2 linked regions of the Homo sapiens genome follow. The protein of the gene in region 2 purifies or fractionates together with the protein of the main gene of each other region. This does not show direct contact. Each region holds a gene or a part of one and is shown on either strand. Other genes may lie near its edges. The genes, in order: ABLIM2 and KIAA1671.

Region 1 (3,811 bases), on a different chromosome or scaffold from region 2:
CCTAATTCCCTGGGCCTCCGTTTGCTCACCTGTGAAGTGGGAATACTGGTAGTCCCGAGCAAGGAGCTCTGATGTAAGGATTATAGGGTGAAAGCACATCGCGGTGCTGGGTCCACACTGGGGAAGCGCGTAAGCCGTTCCCCCGTGGGCATGCACAGCAGAGTCCTGCTTGCCTGGAAGCAAATGCTACATCCCAAGGTGTCCATTGCCCCAAACCACACAGGAACTCAGAGTCGGAAAGATCCTCTAGGACAAGCCCAACCCCAACAGAGATGAGGAGGCCAAGGCTCAGGGGGTACATGGCCTGGGCTGGTTCCTGGACCCCCACCTCTCCATGAGACCACCCCTATCTCCTCCCAGAGCTGCTGATGTACCAAGAAACCTGGGCTCCGCAGGCACCCGGGAGATCAGGCCACGCCAGGACCCGGGATCTGGAGGCACCAGGGAGAGTCCAGCTGTGCCAAGGCCCAGGGTCCCCAGACACTACGGAGAGTCAGGCCACGCTGAGATCTGGGGTCCCCAGATACCAGGGCAGATCCAGCCAGAGTGTGAAGGGGTCTGTAGGGCTGGGGCCATCTGGAGGCTCCGGGGGAGATCCACTTCCGTGCCTCTTCCAGCTTCTAGGGGCACCCGAGTTTCTTGGTGTGGGGCCCCTCCCTTCATCCTCAGAGCCAGGCGTGGAGACTTCTCTCTCCTCTCTGCTGCCTCCTGCCTCCCGTTAGCGAGAAGCCTCAGGCCCCCTGAAATCCAGAGCAGTCTCCCTGTGGCAAAATCCTTCACATAGTCGCATATGAACAGTCATTTTGCCGCATGAGGTCACATAGTCACAGGGCCTGGGATTAGGACATGGGCACCTTTGAGTCCACTGTTCAGCCCCCCAACACCATCCAAGAGGAGGTATTTCAGAGAGGGCAGGTCCCAGCTCCAGGCTGCAGAGCAGGCAGGAGCAGGCACAAATCTCCACAGGAAACCCCAGCTTGGTCTGTGTCCACAGGTTCAGAGGAAGGAGGGAAGCAGAGGGCCTAGAGATGGGAAGAAAGCTTCACAGAGGCCCTGGAGTCCGGCAGAGCCTTGAAAGGGAGAGGAGGAGGGACTCCAGGGGAGCGGGGGCAGGCAGAAGGCGGCAGGAAGAATGCAAGGCTGTTGGGGGATCAGGGCAAAGACAGCACATAGTAGGTGCTTAATAAATAGTCGTGGAGGGACAGAAGGGACATTCTGGAAGAGCTCTGAGCCCTTGGGAGGCTGTTGACTGCTGGACACAGAGAAGGCCCGGACCTAGGCTGAGACTTCCCCAGCACCTCACACTCAGGACTGGCCCTGCGCCCAGACAGGACGGGGCCTATGGAGTAAGACCCCACACAGCCGGTCCCTCTGTGGGACGATTCAGAGGCTCCCAGTGGGACTGAGTCCCCACTTGCCAGAGTGGTGGCCCCCATCCAAATGCCCCCTCCTGGCTTCCCCTCCCTTCCCCCCTTACCCTCCTCACACCTCCCTCGTGCTTCCTGGGGTCACCTCCTAGGTAAACCACCTGCACCCAAGTTCCCACTGCACCTACTCAGGGAGCCTAAATGGAGAGAGTTGTGGGGCAAAGGGGTTGGAACATCATGAGGGCATTTGAAACTAGGCTGCCAGGTTGAAGGTCTGGATGCTCCTTGGAATTCTTCCTTCTGGGCACTTCGTGTCCAGCTGCAGCATCAACTGATGTCATTTTCCATGTGCGATCCCGGGGACACTGAGGTCTGCAGAAGCAGAGGGTCAGAGAGACAGGCCAGGCTGTCTTATGGAATGACGGCAGACAGATGAGGAGGCCATGCTGAACTGGGGACGGAGTTCCACCCATCACACATCCTCCACTCCTTGGGTGTTCACGAAATGCCTCCTCTCATTCTACCTGAGTGGCTTTCAGGGGAGCCAGTACAAGGCCCCATCGTGCCCTGAGGACAGACGCCAGCGAGGACAGAGGCAGCATGCTAGCCGCAGTGACACTGAGCACTTTTCTTGGTGCGCTGGCTGGACTCACATTTCCAGATCGTCTCTCTAACTCGTCTCTCTAAGCACAGAGAAACCAAAGTCCCAAACTTCCAGCACAGGGTGCGAGCTCCGTGCCGGAGGCGGGAGGAGCCACTGCTGCTGCCTGGGATGGGGGCTGCTCAGTAGAATGCAGCTAAAATGAAGCTTCGAGCTGAGACCGATGACTCAAGACACCACGCCTCCTGAGGATGCTGTGCCGAGAAAACCGGGAGCTGGGTGGCTCTCTGGAGACGGTGCTTCTCCTGGCACTGGGCTGCAGCCTTGTAACCAGGACTGAGATGGGGCTGGCAGGGGAGACAGCAGGACCAGAGAAGGGGAGGGGAAGCTATGAACCCAGCCTAGGGTGTGGCTGATGATGCCAAAGCGGCTCCCACGGGGCACGACGTCAGGTTTGTCCCTGAGCTGTGAAGGGTATTTACAGCTGTGACAAAGGCCATTCTGCCCGTTCCCTGGTGCCTGCCGTGCCCAGGCCCTTGACTCTCACTCAGCATCTCTGAGTCTACAGTAACCCCTCAAAAGCAGCTGTCATCACCTGTACTTTTTATGTGGGGAAACTAAGGCAAAGGGCATTTAAACAATCCGCTTGGAGAAACACACAACTAGCAAGTGACGATTGGGGCTGGAGCCCAGGTGTGCCCAGCCCCAAAGCCAGTGCATCTTCTGAGGCACCCAGACTGGCCCCCTCACATTTGGAAATGTTCAGCCAAGGGAAGTGACATGAAGCCACCCAGCTCGTTATCCGCAGCAGACCTGTTTGTTGTAGGCCTGGAAGCTGCTGATGGCGAGAAGCCCCAGAGCCAGCCCTGGCACCCACAAGGACCAGTGAGCGTCCCAGAATCCAAAGCCCCCTCCTCCGCCCCAGTCCTTCCCACAGACGCGAGGGACCCAGCTGCCCTCCTAGCTCGAGCTCCAGGCAGACATCCACAGAAGCTGCTAATCCACAGGCGGCAAGGCACCTCCCTCCACGCCAGAGACCCTCAGCGTGAGGCCCAAGTACTGCTCACCCAGCTGGGAGCATCTCGAGAGCCAGATGAGAAAGGTGGGCGCAGCAGGGTCCCTAAAATGGCAGCCAGGCCTCACACCCAAACAGTGGGCGGGGTGGGGCGGTGGTGTCAGAAGAAAGCAGGGTTGTACCCCGAGGATGGCAGTGGCCCTGTTTTTACAGATGGGTACACTGAGGCACAGAGGGACGATGACTTGTCCAAGGTCACAGAGGTCCAGGCGAGGGGCTGGAGACGCTGCTGGGCTGGGCTGTGTAAGCAGGGGGAGAGGCACTGCCTTCAGTGGAACAGATGGGCCCTGGGGGGATTGCAGGACTTGGGGTGGGGGTGGGGGAGTCGGAGCAGAGGGTCAGGGTTCCAGGGGGGCACATGGGCTCAATGTGGTGAAAGTCCTTCTCAGGCCCAGGCTATCTGAGGGTGAGTCACAGAGGCCATGCAATGACGCTAGGCAGGAACCCCCATAGGAGGCGGGTTTGGGTCTTGTCCTGCCTCCTGGCTCTGTGCTGGCAGGTCCCGCAGCTGGAAAATGGGAATAACACACCACGGCCCAGGCGAGAAGATGGGCTGTGTGAGACCCTCACCAAGAAGCGCCATCATGATGCCCCCAAACGGGCCAGGCTTTATCCACACCAACACTCAGCCACGCGTTATGAGGCAGCAACCAATCCCCCACAGCCACCGGCTAAAGCACGCAGGCAGGGGATAGGCAGACAGCGCCCGCCTAGCCAGGGATACGCGTGTTGCGGCTGAGTCGGGCACACTGGGGTTCAAATCCCAGC
Region 2 (3,811 bases):
ATAACTAACAAAGGCAGGTCCTACCCCAGAGATTCTGACCTAACTGGCCTGGAGAGAGGCCCAGTCATTGATATCTTTTAGGATTCCCTGTGTTACTCCCATAGGCAACCAAAGTTTCAACCACTTAGAGAAAGTGCTCTTTATTATGGAAAAGTGAAGCAAAAATAAAAATATGTATTTCTATGTGCTTGTATTTTCATAAAGAAGCCTCAAAAGAAAAAAAGGAATTTAAAAAAAAGGAATAAAAGTGATTACCGGGTGGAAGAAATGTAAGCATGGCAGGTATCAGGGGAATGTTTTTTAAGTATTTTTGGAGTGGAGCCATGTGAAATCGTCTCTCTCTTAAAACTAAAATAAATAATTTAAATAAATGAAATACTGTTGGGTCTGGGAAACAGTTTCTATAAATGTCTGTTAAGTGAAGAACAGAGAAAAAGAGAGGAAGGGATGGAGAGAGGAAGGGATGGAGAGAGGAAGGAATCACTTTAATGACCATCACACCCTTTTGGGCTGTAAATCAAGAAACCCTCACCCAAGGAACCAACCTTGTTTCTTTTTCTTCTTCTTTTTTTTTCTCTTGAGACAGAGTCTCGCTCTGTTGCCCAAGCTGGAGTGCAGTGGCACGATCTCCGCTCACTACAATCTCCGCTTCCTGGGTTCAAGCAATTCTCCTGCCTCAGCCTCCTAAGTAGCTGGGTCTACAGGCACCCGCCACCAAGCCCGGCTAATTTTTGTATTTTTAGTAGAGATGGAGTTTCACCATGTTGGCCAGGCTGGTCTCAAACTCCTGACCTCAAGTGATCTGCCAGCCTCGGCCTCCCAAAGTGTTGGGATTACAGATGTGAGCCACTGCACCCGGCACAACCCTGTTTCTAACACACACAAAAATTCAAATCCACCCAAATACCCATCAATGAGAGTCTAGGTTAAAATAGATTGGGCTCAGTCACATAATACAATACTTCGCAACCATTAAAAAGAGGAAGGGGAGGCCGGGTGCAGTGGCTCACGCCTGTAATTCTAGCAGTTTGGGAGGCCAAGACAGGTAGACTGCTTGAGGCCAGGAGTTCAAAACCAGCCTGGTTAACATGGTGAAACCCCATCTCTACTAAAAATACAAAAAATTAGCCAGGAATGGTGGTGTGCACCTGTAGTCCCAGCTACTCAGGAGGCTGAGGCAGGAGAATCACTTGAACCCGGGAGGCGGGGGTTGCAGTGAGCCAAGATCCTGCCACTGCACTCCAGCCTGGGCCACAAGAGCAAAACTCCATCTCAAAAAACAAAAGTAAGCCACAAGATTTTCTATAGACTGTTGTAGTTTTCCATAGAAAGCTTATGTATTTACCTATATCTAAGTCTATGCATTTACCTTTATCTATGTCTGTGTCTAGACCAGGGTTCCTCAACCTACAAACTGCAAACACTTGGGGCTGGAGCATTCTTTGCAGTGGGGGCTGTCTTGTGCCTTGTAGGATGTTGGGCAGCATGCTTGGCTTCTACCCATGAGACGCTAATAGCAACCTCTTCCCAGGGTGTGACAACAACAAAATATGTCTCCAGACACTGCCAAATGTGCCCCAGGGGCAAAATTGCCCATAGTTAAAAACCACTAATGGGCCTAGAGGGGTGTTCCCCAGTTTATGCACCACGCTCAATATTTAAAGGAGATTTTCTCTCTACACCATTTTTCTATAGTATTTCAAAATTTTTTTTTTTCTTTGAGACGGAGTCTCTCTCTGTCGCCCAGGCTGGAGTGCAGTGGCGTGATCTTGGCTCACTGAAAGCTCCGCCTCCCGGGTTCACGCCATTCTCCTGCCTCAGCCTCCGGAGTAGCTGGGACTACAGGCGCCCGCCACTGTGCCCGGCTAATTTTTTTGTAGTTTTAGTAGAGACAGGGTTTCACCGTGTTAGCCAGGATGGTCTCAATCTCCTGACCTCGTGATCCACCCGCCTCGGCCTCCCAAAGTGCTGGGATTACAGGCATGAGCCACCGTGCCCAGCCAGTATTTCACATTTTACGCAAGCATTCGCTACTGTTGCAATATGAAAAGCATGACAATTATGCATATATATATGATTGATAAGTGACTGTCAATATAGGAAAGTCCGAAAGGACATAAACAATGTAATGGTGGCTGCCTCTGGGGGAACACTCACCTTTTATTTTCTATACCCCTGTAAGGTTCAAAATTTTAACAACCAACATTTTTTCCTTCTGTATTGGTGTGTTTTTATTTTTTTTTTTAAGATCAAAGAACCAAAGATCTTTTGGCAGGAGACAAGAGAGAAACGGGAAGCTGGTCCAAGGCTTCCCAATCCCGTGGTGAGAAAACAGATCCCCTGACAACCAGCACTGCTGGGGCCTGCGTGCTCCAGGCAGGCATCCAAGGCTGGGCTGCGGGACAGAGCTGAGCCCAGGATCCCCCCTCCACAACATCCCGACTCCCCCACCACCAGCGGGCCCTGAGCAAGGTGCTGGCAAACATAAGTGTCGCATTTCCTTGGCCTCTTCCTTCTTCCACTGTTACCACAACATCAGCCTGCAGGTAGGGACAGATGAAACCCTTCTCAGGAAGCACACGGGGATGGCCCAAGTTCGGTGCTTTATTTCAATTCAGTCTAATAACAGTGCTTTGGGGCAGGAATCCCTGTTAACTCTGGCATGGCAACTGAGGCCAGGAGAGGCCAAGAGGCTGCTTTACACACAGCAGGCAAGTAGCAGCGTGGAGATTCAGATGCCAAGTCTGCGTGATCCTGCACATGGTGGTTGGAGAGCTTGGCCTCTTGGGAACAGACATGGGTTCAAAGCCTGACTCCATCACTTACCCACTCTTAACTGAAGGCAAATCCTCACCGCATGATCATTACTGACTGTATCCTAGAGTTTCCTTTCTGCAGCATCCACTTCCAGACTGGCCACCTAGTCCCTTTTACAGACAAGAAAACTCGGGTGCAGGGAGGTGAAAGGTTTTGCCCTGTATCACTCAGCTGCAAGTGGCAAAGGAAGAATCTGTGGCCTGATTTGCTGATGCCACATCACACAGGGCGGTGCTAAGTCCATTTCCACATGTCCCCCACAACATTCTACGCTCTTCCCACCTCCAAACCTTTGTCCATGCTGTGCCCTGCTGAGAATGCCCTCACCTCCCCTCATCAGCCCACCCAAAAGCATGGCCAACCCTCAAGCTTGGGCTGAGACCACCGACTCCTCCAGGACACCTTGGGCCACCTCTCCAGTGCCTCCCTCTGCACCCCATCACTCCCCAGTCTTGGATCACAATGGCCCATCTCCCCACAGAGATCAGAAGCTTCAAAGGGTGGTCCTTATGCCTCAGATTTCTTCCCCACCTTCGTGGTTCTTCACCAGAATGGTCTCCTAGAATATGGCCCAGTTGGGTAATTAAGGCCAGATTTGGGTTCAAATACCAGTTTTGTTACTTACTGCTGTGTGACCTGGGACAAGTTATTTCACCTCTCTGAGCCTCTGTTTTTTTCCCCCCATCTGTACAGGAAGATGATCACACAGCAGTAGGTAGTGTCAGCACTCTGCCCAACACTCAGGTATATGCCAAAGATCAAGAGAAGGGGCCCTCTGCCAACACCCTAGAGCCTCACTGATAGATATTTGGGTAGATTTGAATTTGTGTGTGTGTGTTAAAAACAAAGTGGCTTATTTGGGTGAGGGTTTCTTCACAGCTATTCTGCTTATGTACCCCCAAAAGGGTGTGCTTGTAATTAAAGTGATCCCTTCCTCCTTTCCTCCCCACCCCCCACCCTGCCATCCATTCTTCTCTTTCTCTCTGTTCTTCAC

Evidence for each region.
Region 1: the proteins of KIAA1671 (region 2) and ABLIM2 purify together in Homo sapiens (co-immunoprecipitation; one large-scale study listed by IntAct). This does not show direct contact.

The regions. Positions count from the first base shown.
Region 1 is NC_000004.12:8,148,503-8,152,313, forward strand, and holds part of ABLIM2 (actin-binding LIM protein 2), read right to left. Parts: intron 1-3,811. UniProt on the Homo sapiens protein: May act as scaffold protein. May stimulate ABRA activity and ABRA-dependent SRF transcriptional activity.
Region 2 is NC_000022.11:25,043,070-25,046,880, reverse strand, and holds part of KIAA1671 (uncharacterized protein KIAA1671), read right to left. Parts: intron 1-3,811.